Linked DNA regions of Homo sapiens. The protein of the gene in region 3 purifies or fractionates together with the protein of the main gene of each other region. This does not show direct contact. Each region holds a gene or a part of one and is shown on either strand. Other genes may lie near its edges.

What was found.
Region 1: the proteins of ZSCAN20 (region 3) and ADNP purify together in Homo sapiens (affinity purification with mass spectrometry; 3 studies listed by BioGRID and IntAct, with this or other methods). This does not show direct contact.
Region 2: the proteins of ZSCAN20 (region 3) and PGBD1 purify together in Homo sapiens (affinity purification with mass spectrometry; 3 studies listed by BioGRID and IntAct, with this or other methods). This does not show direct contact.
Region 4: the proteins of ZSCAN20 (region 3) and EVPL purify together in Homo sapiens (affinity purification with mass spectrometry; 3 studies listed by BioGRID and IntAct, with this or other methods). This does not show direct contact.

What each region holds. Positions count from the first base shown.
Region 1 is NC_000020.11:50,888,418-50,890,927, forward strand, and holds the end of ADNP (activity-dependent neuroprotector homeobox protein), read right to left. Parts: 3' UTR 501-2,510; downstream 1-500.
Region 2 is NC_000006.12:28,295,072-28,298,571, reverse strand, and holds part of PGBD1 (piggyBac transposable element-derived protein 1), read right to left. Parts: intron 1,757-3,500; coding exon 1,627-1,756; intron 1,186-1,626; exon of another isoform or gene 1,049-1,185; intron 678-1,048; coding exon 581-677; intron 1-580.
Region 3 is NC_000001.11:33,499,394-33,502,143, reverse strand, and holds the end of ZSCAN20 (zinc finger and SCAN domain-containing protein 20), read right to left. Parts: 3' UTR 501-2,750; downstream 1-500. UniProt on the Homo sapiens protein: May be involved in transcriptional regulation.
Region 4 is NC_000017.11:76,010,307-76,013,806, forward strand, and holds part of EVPL (envoplakin), read right to left. Parts: intron 1,784-3,500; coding exon 1,700-1,783; intron 1,577-1,699; coding exon 1,466-1,576; intron 1,363-1,465; coding exon 1,270-1,362; intron 238-1,269; coding exon 1-237. UniProt on the Homo sapiens protein: Component of the cornified envelope of keratinocytes. May link the cornified envelope to desmosomes and intermediate filaments.

The DNA of each region.
Region 1 (2,510 bases), on a different chromosome or scaffold from region 3:
TCTCATCTCGAGGACTCAGTACTAGTAGTCTGAGGTCTAAGTAGTAAAGGAACTACACTTCTGTATGGTAGTACTTATTTGGCAATAAGCAGGTTTGTTTCTAGCGTGAAGCATCTCAGATGGGAAACTCCCATCTTTAATACATCGCAGTTTTCAAATTTGGCACTCATTTTGTTCATGCCAGAAATGGATGTTACAAAGGAGTAGGCATTGGGATCAAACTGACATACAACTCTAGAGCGATATGAGGCATAGATACCCTTTCTGCTTGAATTGCAAGAGGGAATGAAGCTGTTTGATAAAGATTCTCCTCTCCCTATACAATGACAAGGAACCAAAGATAGGATGAGAAAATGCTCTATGTGATGAACAGGGAAAGAAGCCACAGTCCTAGCTTGTCTGAGTGAACTCATTCCCACGAGAAAACCTGCAGGGCCAAAAACACGCCTCCCCACCCCCTTCCCCCGACACCCACAAAAACAAAACACACCAAACCTCTGTAGGATACTTAGGTTTTCTCATGTTAGAAGTGTTCAGCCTACATTTACAGGCATTCTCTAATTAGGTGGCAGCACGTTGCCATAGCCAACGATCTCCAGATTATTTGAAAAGCAAACAGTAGCAACAATATTCTTTTAAAATGGCTTTTATTGAGACACTTGTAGGGATTCTGCAACATTTCCAGTTGGGAATCTTTATTTCCAACTCTTAGGGTGGCTAAACCCTTTTCTGAATGCCAAAAGGCACACTCTCACCACCTTAATGAGGAAACACACTTATCTGTGTCTGTTCCGATATCCAACTGGGACCTGGACCCCAAGCCCCGTGGTGTCTTGTACAAGTCTCATTAGTCCTCCACGTACAACTCAGAAGCCTGTTAATCAGGGAGGGTAATTTCCAAATAAATGTGAGCTGGCCTAAATCCAGCTGGTTATTTCTGATTTGGTAATCTGTAGTATCTTAATTTGGGGACATCCTGTCCTAAGTTTTGGCTGGTGCATGTAGAACTTATAATCTACCTGTATAACAACAGATGCAACATAGCTCCGTTCCAGCCCCAAATTCCTTAAAGGTTCTAGTCTACTCTTGCACTTCTTCCTGTACTGTTGTTGAGAAGCTTACATTTTAGGGAGAGGCTGGTCAAATCTCTACTCTCTGGTAACAGCATTAACAAGAGTCTTTCTTTTGGAAACAGACTCAGAAGTTATGGACATCAGCCACTTCAGACTTCTTTAGGCCACTATCCTTGAGGTGACTGACCAGCCTCCTCATGGATTGGAGTTTCCCATCATTGTTTTAATTGCTGGAAATGTTGGCCTAATTCTGCTTCCTTGTAACTTTCTGCTTTTTAGTACAAGTTCTCTTGGGAATCTACGCATGGTAAAAATACCAGCTCCTTCCATCTTTACAGCCCTGTCAGTGCTGTGCTCTTCAAAGCCTTTCCCTTAATAGCAAGAGGGCCAAGAGTGGCAAATAGAGGCAGAGCCGCCTGCACTACAGTTGTTCCCATCGTAAGGTGAAAACGAACGTTTAACTTCATCTAGAAGAAAAAACAAACAAAAAACCCATCAGGCTATTAAGATTCTGCTTGCAAATTAATGCCAATCCATGTTTACATTTTTTTTTTTATCATTGAGACATTTACATATATATGCAGGCTCTGCTCCTTAACAAAAGGTGAACTGAAAAACTCAAGGGTGTTTGTTTTTCAGTTAAAAAAAAAAAAAAAAAAAAAAAAAAAAAAGAAAAACAGATTTTGTACCAGGTGCCTCAAGAGAAAGCATTCTATTTGCAGATGACAGATCTTGGGTTTTCCACAAGTTTCCTCTGTGACTGTGGCTGCCATCTCTGATGAAAGAGTTATGGCATTAAATGGCAAAAGATATAATGGACACACAGGACTGTCATGTGTAATAAAGCAAATATTTACATTAAGCACAATACAGCAATTTATTTAGATGCTTAAAATGAATACAAAGGGAAAATAAAGATCACAAAATTATACATACTACAACAGTGTGTCATATATTAGATGGTATAAATGAATCCACCATGATGGTGTTGAACTAAAGATAAAACTAAATATCCAAAATGCAGCACTCATTGGTTTGCTGCTTCAACACAACACACTTTTATACAGATCTAAAAGGTGTCAAAATTAGTAGCTGCAAAGTCAATTCTTGCATGTGATTTTAGCTTAAAAGATTTCAGAAAACAGATCTGAAATACCAGTTTTTGTTTTTGACAGCTGTAATGTCAAGGATATTCAGAACAAGAAAAATCCTATAATACAAGAGAGTCCAGATATATATCTTACGTGGCTGGCCTCTGTTGCAAGATTGTACAAGGTTATGTGCAAAAACTAAGTCTGTCCAAAAAGTCCATACTAGCGCAGTTTTGAGCTTTTGCTAGGTAAACTAGATAGAGCGTTTATTACACAGCAAGGGCAACACTAAAAAAAGAAATCTATGATGGGCACACAGTAACAGGATCATGAGCATCACTTGAAT
Region 2 (3,500 bases), on a different chromosome or scaffold from region 3:
GAAGATTTTTGAATTTTGGATTTTTTTCAGATTTTGGAATATTTGCATTATACCAGTTGGGCATCCCTAACCAAAGATCCAAAATCCAAAATGCTCCAATGAGCATTTCCTTTGAGCATCATGCTGGTGCTCAAACAGCTCAGATTTTGGAACATTTCAGATTTGGAATGCTCAACCTGTACCCTGCTTGTCCTCTTCCACTCTGACATTTCTTTCTTAACTGTCATGGCAGCTTCATCTGTAGCCCTCATTCTTGTTAAATTATCTGCCTTCTAGCTTCTCCACAGCTCCATAAAAATGTAAGGGAGCCCAGGGAAGGGTAATCAAGCAGGACAGACTGGATCAGGATAGGCTTCTTGGAGGAAACTGAGTATCAACTGAAGGTTTTGTATATTTATTGCATATTGAAAATTTTGAATAGGTCACTTTCTTGGCATGGACCTCCTATGATCACAGAAGTGAGTGGCAGTTGTCATATCTTATTCCAGAGAAGCAGGCCTTTGACCAATTGGTTTCTCTGATTCCATTCCAATTTCTTATATCTGCAGGATTTGATTCACTGAGGACCATGGACACTCACCTGTTGGGCTTTCCTGAGGCTTCTCCACTTTGTTCCATTTCTTCAGAAGTTTCTTGCTTTGCTTTAAACAATCTATCTTTAGTTACAATTTCTTCAGCTAAAATATAACATTAATGATTTAAATGTCATCTGTTATGTGAATTTTGAAAAAAAAAAAAAAAAAAAAAAAAAAAAACTTCCAGGGTAGGGAATAGATGTTCCAAATCAAACAAAAAACAAATCATATTGGTGTTTCAAGGGTGCACAGTTTCAGCAATCCTACAAAATGTGGCATGGTATGGGAAAATGATAAGAAAGGTTAATTAAGGCACCAAAGCCCAGCTGCAGAGAGGGCCCAACAGGGCAGAGCACATTTCAAGAAAATTAGGCTGGGTGCTTTGGGAGGCCAAGGTGGAAGGACTGCTTCAGGCCAGGAGTTCAAGACCAGCCTGGGCAACATAGCGAGACTCCGTGTCTACAAAAAATTACCTGGGTGTAGCCCCAGCTTTTTAGAAGGCTGAGGTGGGAGGATCAGTTGAGCCCAGGAGTTTGAGGCTGCAGTGAACTATCATCGTGCCACTATGCTCCAGCATGGGCAACAAAGCGAGACCCCATCTTTAAAAAAACTAAAAAAAATAAAATAAACATGAACTGTCGTGTTCTTAGAGAGTGAAGATGACCTCCTCTGAGGTAAAGACAAGGTCAGACAGAGGTGTTCATGGGGCTTCCAAGTATGAAGGGATATCTGAAAGACAAGTTATATGGAATCCTTGACAGGGAAGAAAAAAGGGGAAAAGGATACAAAGGAGTCACTGAAGGAATCAGGGAACTAGAAGAGATGATCAGAGAAGATAACCACAACAATCAGTAAACTGATTAGTAACAGAAGAAAATGTGATTGGGAAGGATGCAAAGTGATAAGGGCTAGAAGTCTGGAGGCAGAGGCCAGAAGAAGGGAAAGGAAGGGTGTGGGTCTGTAGGAAACGTGGCCTCCCAAGGGCCAAGCCAGGGTGAGTGACAGGAAAATGAGAGTCCAGACAGGGGTCCAGCCAGAGGCCTGGCCTTACTCATCGGACTGAGGCTCATAACTGTCTCCTGAGCTGAGTTCCCACAGAGGTTCCTCCGAGTCAGACTCAGATGTGACCACTTCTCTGCAGCAACGGCCTGGGCTGTTTCTTCCTCAGTCTTCACCAATGTCTAAAAAGACAAAAAAAGAAAATAGCCTCTTTGTTTTCACATGGTAAGGAATCCAGTTGTGAAGGGTGTTGAATACCACGCTGTAGACCGGTAGTCCCAGCCCCTCAGGGCATTTTGTAAACTTGTGGGAACCTTTCTGGTTATAACAATGAAGTCCACCACCACCTCAAGCCGATGCCATTCAGAGGGTGAGGCCAGAGATGCTAGGCATCTTGAAATATGTGGGACAGTCCCACACTACAAAGAATTCTTCCACATCCTGCAGGACTTTTGAGTGTCCTCCTGAACCAAACCTACAATCAGTATAAATCAGCTACACTGAAACATAGGAAACCTGAAGAGTTTTTATAGGATGATACTGAAAAAAAGTCAGTAATTCAAGAAAGTTAGAGAAGGAAGCTTACATCGATTAAAGACATTGTCACAAAAGTTGACTCACTTGGATTGTTCTACACACTATTTTACAGCATTTTCTATGTATTTGGTTGAACAGCACTTCAATATAATATTGCAGTTATAACAAATGCAATTAAACTGACTACAAATACCTAACAGAGTTTTGAGACTCCTTTTAACAGATTTGGAATCTAATGTAAATGCAGAAATCTCACTGAATTTCATCAACAAAGATTGTTTAAAAACATTTCAAAGCTAGTAATGATATGTAGGCTGGAAAAATCATACACTGAATTTATTTATTTGGGGAACTGTCTGAGATTTTCTATCTCTCTGACACTGTCCCAAAAGGCTACCACATGGTTTCATTAGCCTCTTGATTTTCTCTCATTTTCCAATCTACTTTCTCTTTCTTGTTGCCTGAAAAAGGACACAGTGCCAGTCTTTTAGAGAATGAATATCTGTTTTGACAAGGAGGGGGTTTCAAGACAGAAGATGTTTTCTCTTTAACTCATCATCACCCTATTCCAAACTACAGATAATTATTTTGATAATAAAAGGCAAAGCCCACCTCATTTAAACATAGGCCTACCTCAGAGATATTGCAGGTTCAGTTCCAGACCACCACAATAAGGCAAATATCACAATAAAGCAAGTCACAGAAATTTCTTGGCTTCCGAGTGCATGTGAAAGTCATGTTTACACTATACTATGTAGTCTATTAATCGTACATAAGCATTGTGTCTAAAAAAGTATATATCTTAATTTAAAAATACTTTATTGCTAATACATGCTAATAATCATCTGAGCCTTCAGAGAGTTGTGATCTTTTTGCTGGTAGAGGGGCTTCCTGCGATGTTGAACGATGCTGACTAATCAATGTGGTGGTTGCTGAAGGTTTCGGTGGCTGTGGCAGTTGCTTAAAATAAGACAACAGTAATGTTGGCCACCTTGATTGACTCTTCCTTTCACAAAAGATTTCTGTGTAGCATGCAATGTTGTTTGATAGCATTTTACCCAGAGTAGAACTTCTTTCAAAATTGTAGTCAATCATCTCAAACCTGCTGCTGCTTTATCAACTACGTTTATTTAATATTCTAAATCCTTTGTTGTCATTTCAACAATGCTTCACCAGGAGTAGATTCAATCTCAAACCACTTTCTTTTCTCACCCATAAGAAGTAACTTATCTGTTCAAGTTTTGTCATGAGATTGTAGCAATTCAGTCACATCTTCAGGTTCCACTTCTAATACTAGTCCTTTCCACCACATCTGCAGCTACACTATCCACTGAAGTCCTAAACCTCTCAAAGACAATGATGAGTGTTAGAACCAATTTCTTCCAAACT
Region 3 (2,750 bases):
ATTATCCTTGTGTTATTTGGATTTCAGACACCTCTGGTTTCCTAGCACAGGGATCCTGAGGGACATATCAAAGTAGATGCATAGGGACCAGCAGACTGAGATGCCACTCCTCCCTCCAGGGGGCCCCATGGAACGCAGGGCCCTCACTGGCCCTGGGGACTGGGTGACGTCAGGGGTGAGCCTCTCGTGATTGGCTCCCTCACCCTGCGTAAGATCAAAGGGACAAAAGGACAGCCCCGACACCCGGAGCCACTGTGGCTCCGGCCAGTTGCACCGGCCACTGAGGCCATGGCTCCTGGGGTTGTGGACATGCCTGAAGAGCCACCCATGTCTGAAGGACCACAGGGAACAATGAAAAGAAGACACCTGCCCAGCACAAGGGGCTTGAGACCTTGGCCCCAATCTCCCTGACAACCTGTGTCTCGATGACTTCCCTTCCTTTTCTCCCCCATGCTTTTGGTGTAACCAGGAAGAAGCCAGAAGAATCGAAAACACATTCCTTTTTTGGCAGTTTAATATAATTTATTAACTTATCAGGCCATTCCATCCCAAAATATGATTTGACCAGCTTTAAGAGATGTACATAACAGCACAAAAAAAAAAAAAATAACAGAAAATGGGGAAGTGAAAGCAAAGCCAAATAAAATGAAGCCAGGGATTGGTCCACAAATTGCAAAACAAAAGGGCCTGTTCAGGTTTTAGAATTGGACATTAAATCCCTGAGGCTCCTGATGGACAAAATTTAATCCATTTTAATTTCACAGTCCCTAAGAGGGAATTAAAATCAATTACAAATGTCTCATTTCCATAAATTAGTTGGTCGAGAAAGGTCCCTGGAGATGACACCTGTGCTTCTCCAGGACACACCAACCGGGTTTAGCGTGAGCTCCTGCCCCTACTACTGATGCTGGCGCTCCAGCCTAGCTGGCCTTACCTCTCCATCTATTTCTGGGAAACTTCAGGAACAGGGTTGGGTTGGCGACCTCATACGTGGTCATGAACAAGCCCTTTCCTCTCAAGTGCTGTCCACAGAGGGATTCTCTCCTGCCTTGCCCCCTGGGTGAAGTCTGCAGTGGAGGGTTTCAAAGTGTCTCACCACCACTTCCTGCTGGTCCCCAGTGCCTATAAATATGCGGAAGCTTCTCTGTGGTCCACGAATCCCCCCAAAGCACTGAAGCCAAGTGTGTTCTATGTGGAAGGAGAAGACTCCTTTCTCCTTTGTGCCACATTTGTCACCTGCCACCAAGTTAGGGCTCCCTGAGCCCCAGTGACTCGAGATTCTAGTAGTCACAACTCTGCCAGCCTGGGCCTGTGGCTCCTCTCCTGCTTGGGCTCAGATACATCTGTCATGCTGCTCCAGGACCAGCTTAGAGACTGATTCTTGTTTTCCTGATCCCCCTTCCCGTGGCCCTCGCCCTCTAGGGGGCACAATTTTTATGGGATATTTTTCTACAATGAAAATGTAAAAAAAAAAAAAAAAGTGACTTTAGAAATAAGTATCATGTAATAGCAGGCATGATCAGAAGCATCTTTACACACAAAAAGAATCACCAACAGCGCCCTCATTAGAAAATCAATGTCTATGTGACTCCCTAGTCGACTATAGCATGTTTAGGTAAAATTATCTAATTGTATTCTTCTTTTTACTCTTCTAATGCTCTTGACTTAACCAAGTGGCTCTTAAAACAAAGAAGCTCTCAGCTTTGAGAAGTGGGGGAACCAAACACACACTGAAAAGAACTGGGACCTCTCAAACTCTCTGTCTCTTCCTCCAAGCAGCATAAAATGGGGTTACTGGGGTGCAGGCTCCTGTAGGGTTCCTAACAGAGACTAGGTGAGAGATGCGGCACACGGAGGTGAGGAGAAAGGTCACCCACTCAGCTGCAGCATGGGGTGGGGGAAGCAACAATAAGGTAAGGAAGGAACCTGCCTTTGCCCCCCGAAAACATGCATTTATTTGGAGGTAAGTGCAGGCTTGCTGAAAGTCAGAGGGAGGGCAAAATGATGCTAAAGACATGCTAGCAGTAATAGTGATGCTGGGAGTGTGAAGAAACAGCCAGGAGCTGTGGGGGAAAAGGATCCAGTGTCTACCATCCCAGGCCTCCAGGCCCATTTCAACTCCCTCCTCTCCTGTAAAGCCTTCCCTGCACTCCCACTGCATGGAACACTAACCCCTTGTAGCAGATTGGGGCAGGGGCTTGAGATTGGTGTTTGCTATTAACAGGTGGGGGAGCTGAGCAATGCCCAAATGGAGGATGGGATCAAAACTGAGGTTAAGGGGAGCTTTGGGAGGCTGAGGTGGGAGGATCGCTTGAGGCCAGGAGTTCAAGACCAGCCTGGGCAACACAAGACCCCCATCTCCCCCCCAAAAAAAATGGGGTAAGGGAATATTTTGAATGATTAATTTTGACTTTAGATATTGACTTCATTCAGAAAGAGACCTCTCAGGCAGCTGGGTAACTCCAGCCCAACTGGAAATGCTCTTAGAAGGGAGAAAGTATTGGCAGAACTGAGTCCAAGATGAGTCCAATGGGCAGGTCTCTCCAGGCACGTGCAGGGGAGGCTTGGATGGGAGTCACTGAGTGTGTACATCAATGCACGTGCTGAATGGGCAGGCCAAGAGCCCCATGATGGGTGATGGTAGACACCGGGGCTTTGAGATGCCCAGGAGTCACCCAAGCACAGCTGGTTGGCAGGCAGCTGGGATCCTAAGAGGAGAGGCCACAGCAGGACACAGATCTGGAAGTCAT
Region 4 (3,500 bases), on a different chromosome or scaffold from region 3:
GGGGTCCCGGTAGAACTCTACCACTTCCTTCTCCTCCAGCCTCTCCAAGGGCCGCTGGGTCCTCAGCTGCAGCAGTTGGCTCCTCTGCGCCTCCAGCTCATGCTGCACCCGGGCCACCCGCTTCCTCTCCTCTTCCAGCTGGGCCTTCAGGGCCTCTGACTCTCTCCCTGCTTGGGCAGGGCTCTCGGAGCCCTGCTTTGCATCATGGGTCCTTCGGATGTCCTCACTGAGCTCCTTCTGCAGAGAGGAAGAAGGGTAGAGCACGGGGTGGGCGGTAGAGATAGGAGCTCCATGTTTTTCCTGAGATGAAAGACCCCTCCCTGTTTCCTGAGACTCCCCAGTGGGTCCTCAGAGGTGGAGCTGAAGACCTAAGATGCTTGGATATAGGATTTTGAGAAGACCCAGTCAATGCAATGATTTTAGGACCCAAGGCAGTGCGCAGGCCTGGTTTGCATTAGAAAGTGCAAGTAAGGGCCAGGTGCAATGGCTGATGCCTTTAATCCCAACACTTTGGGAGGCCAAGGTGGGCGGATCACCTGAGGTCAGGAGTTCGAGACCAGCCTGATCAACATAGTGAAACCCCATCTCTACTAAAAATCCAAAAAATTAGCTGGGCGTGGTGACGCATGCCTGTAATCCCAGTTACTCAGGAGGCCGAGGCAGGAGAATCGCTTGAACCAGGGAGGCGGAGGTTGCAGTGAGCTGAGATTGTGCCACTGCACTCCAGCCTTGGTGATAGAGCGAGACTCCGTCTCAAAAAAAACAAAAAACAAAAAAAAAGTGCAAACAGGACAGGTTCTCCCTGTCCCTCCAGAACCTCTCCCTTTTCCCCTTCCATCCAGGGACCCTGACTGTGGCCGAGGGTAACAGAAAAGCTGGCAAGTCACCAGGAGTCCTGGAGAAGTTCTGGCTTGAGGGTGTGTAGGCCGAAGGTGGAGAGCCAGGTGGCTGAGGGTGAAGCTCTAGGGGATTTTCTCTGCTCTCTGGGGTTAGAGGTCTTGTCCCATTGGAGGATGCCCAGTGGCCATGAATGCCATCTCCAGGGCCTAACCCTGGGATGGACACCAGCCTGTAAGAGCTGCTGGAGAGAAAACTGGGTGGCTGGAATCCGCTCCCCTCTCCAGCAGCCAGAGCTGCCCAGGGGCTGCAGGCAGGAGGGAGAGGAGGGAAGGAGACTACCAGGGTGACAGCCTGGCATTTTGGGAATGGAGTGGGCATTCCTGGTTATTCCTGGCTATTGTGGGAAAGCTGTAGGTGTTGTCTGTGTACCTTCTCCAGCATTTTTCTAGCAAACTCCAGCTGCTGGAGCAGCTGCTGCTGTGCTGCTGCAACCTCAGTATAGGCCTTTGCAAGGTTCTTCTCCTGGAGAAGGCAGAGGGAGAGGGGAAGGGCAGAGTCAGCTCCTGCCTTGGACCCTACAGAGCTGGTGTCAAGGTCCACTGAGCCCCGCAAGGTCCCATCTCACCTGGGCTTGGATGCTCTCTTGCAGGGGAGCCACTCGGGGTCTCTTGGGGGCTGACACTGCCAGGGTGGGCTCCAAAGAGCAGCGGTAGGTGTCTGCCTGGAGCTCATAGTCCTGAGCAGGGAGGAAAGGACAGCAGGCTGGCAACCAGTGGGGGAGGCTGGGTGTGGGGGATAGGGCTGGAAGAGGGACAAGGGTGATGCATGGAGAGGGGCAAGCTGAAGGCAAGCTGCTTACCTGGAGCGCTGCCTGCAGGGCCTGGGAGAGGTGGGATGCTGTGGCCCTGTCCCGCTCTCGGCTCTGGATCTCCTGCGTCAGCCTCTGCCAGGGAAGAACCCAGAGTCAGGAGGCCAGGAAATGCCAATCACCCTGACTCTCCTCTAGCCAGTGCCTCCAGGGCCACAGTCAGGCAGAGCTGCCTCCCAGGGACAAGAAAGGGCAGGGAGGGAGACCTGGGCCAAACTCCCTCCTTTCCCTGACATCATTCTCTCTGCTTTTCCTCCTTCCTCTCCGAGGCACCTTGGCAGAATCCCTTTCTTTCCTTTTTTTTTTTTTTGAGACCAAGTCTCACTCTGTCACCCAGGTTGGAGTGCGTGATCTCGGCTCACAGCAGCCTCCTGGGTTCAAGCGATTTTCATGCCTCAGCTTCCTGAGTAGCTGGAATGACAGGTGCCTGCCACCATGCCAGGCTAATTTTTATATTTTTAGTAGAGATGGGGTTTCGCCATGTTGGCAAGGCTGGTCTCGAACTCCTGACCTCAGGTGATCCGCCAGCCTCGGCCTCCCAAAGTGCTGGGATTACAGGCATGAGCCACCTTTCTTTGGCCTTGTGCCCCTCAGAGTTCCGTTCTAGCACAGTAGTATCTGCGAGCATCACCTGGGGCCTGTGGGAGGCAGGCAGGCATGCAGGGCCCACCTGCACATCAGATCCAGCAGGTCCGGGTGGCCCTGAGAATTCATATTTCTTTCTTTTCTTTTTTTTTTTTTTTTTTTTGAGACGGAGTCTTGCTCTGTCGCCCAGGCTGGAGTGCAGTGGCGCTATCCGGACTCACTGCAAGCTCCGCCTCCTGGATTCACACCATTCTCCTGCCTCAGCCTCTCGAGTAGCCGGGACTACAGGTGCCCAGCACCGTGCCCGGCTAATTTTTTGTATTTTTAGTAGAGATGGGGTTTCACCGTGTTAGCCAGGATGGTCTCGATCTCCTGACCTTGTGATCCGCCCGCCTTGGCCTCCCAAAGTGCTGGGATTACAGGCGTGAGCCACCGCGCCCGGCCTGAGAATTCATATTTCTGATAAGTCCCCAGGTGATGCTGCTACAGCTCATCCAGAACCATGGCTCCAATTGGAAAGTTCTCAATACGGGATGCCCACTTTTATTCACCTGGGAACTTAATATACTGATGCTCTGACCACAATAATCCAACTTATTTGGTCTGGGGAGGGGTCCTGGCCTGGGGATGTTTTAAAAGCTCTCTGGGAGATTCTAGTTTGCAGCCAGGGCTGAGAATCTCTGTCCCAGGCCCCCTTCCCAATGTCACCTCCCTACTCTCTCCCCAGATATTCTCATTTTCCGGCAGTCCCAGACCCATCTTTGCTCTCACGAGCTCCTAGGGGAACCCCCAGCCCCAGTTCCCTCCCATATGCCTACGTCCACCTCCCCGCTGCCCTCGGCTGTCCTGGCCACCTCATTTCAGCATGACCCAGCCGGCCCCATTCCTCTCCCCAAATATGCTCTGTTTCCTGTGTTCCCGCCTCAAGTGGAGGTGCCCCCTCTTCCCAGTTGTCCCCAACAGAACCCTGGGCATCACCGGGCCCCGTCCATCTCACTCACTGTCCCCTTCAAGCAGTCACCAAGTCCACCTAATTCTGCCATCTCCATCTCAGATCTGCCCACCTCGCCCTGTGCCATGGTCCCTTCCCCGGCCAGGCCACCACTCTCTCTCCGCTGGATTTCCACCCTGGCTCCTCGTGGGCCTCCGTGTCTTCATTCCCACCCTCTTAGTCATTCTCTACATGGCAGCCAGAGCCAGCTTCTAA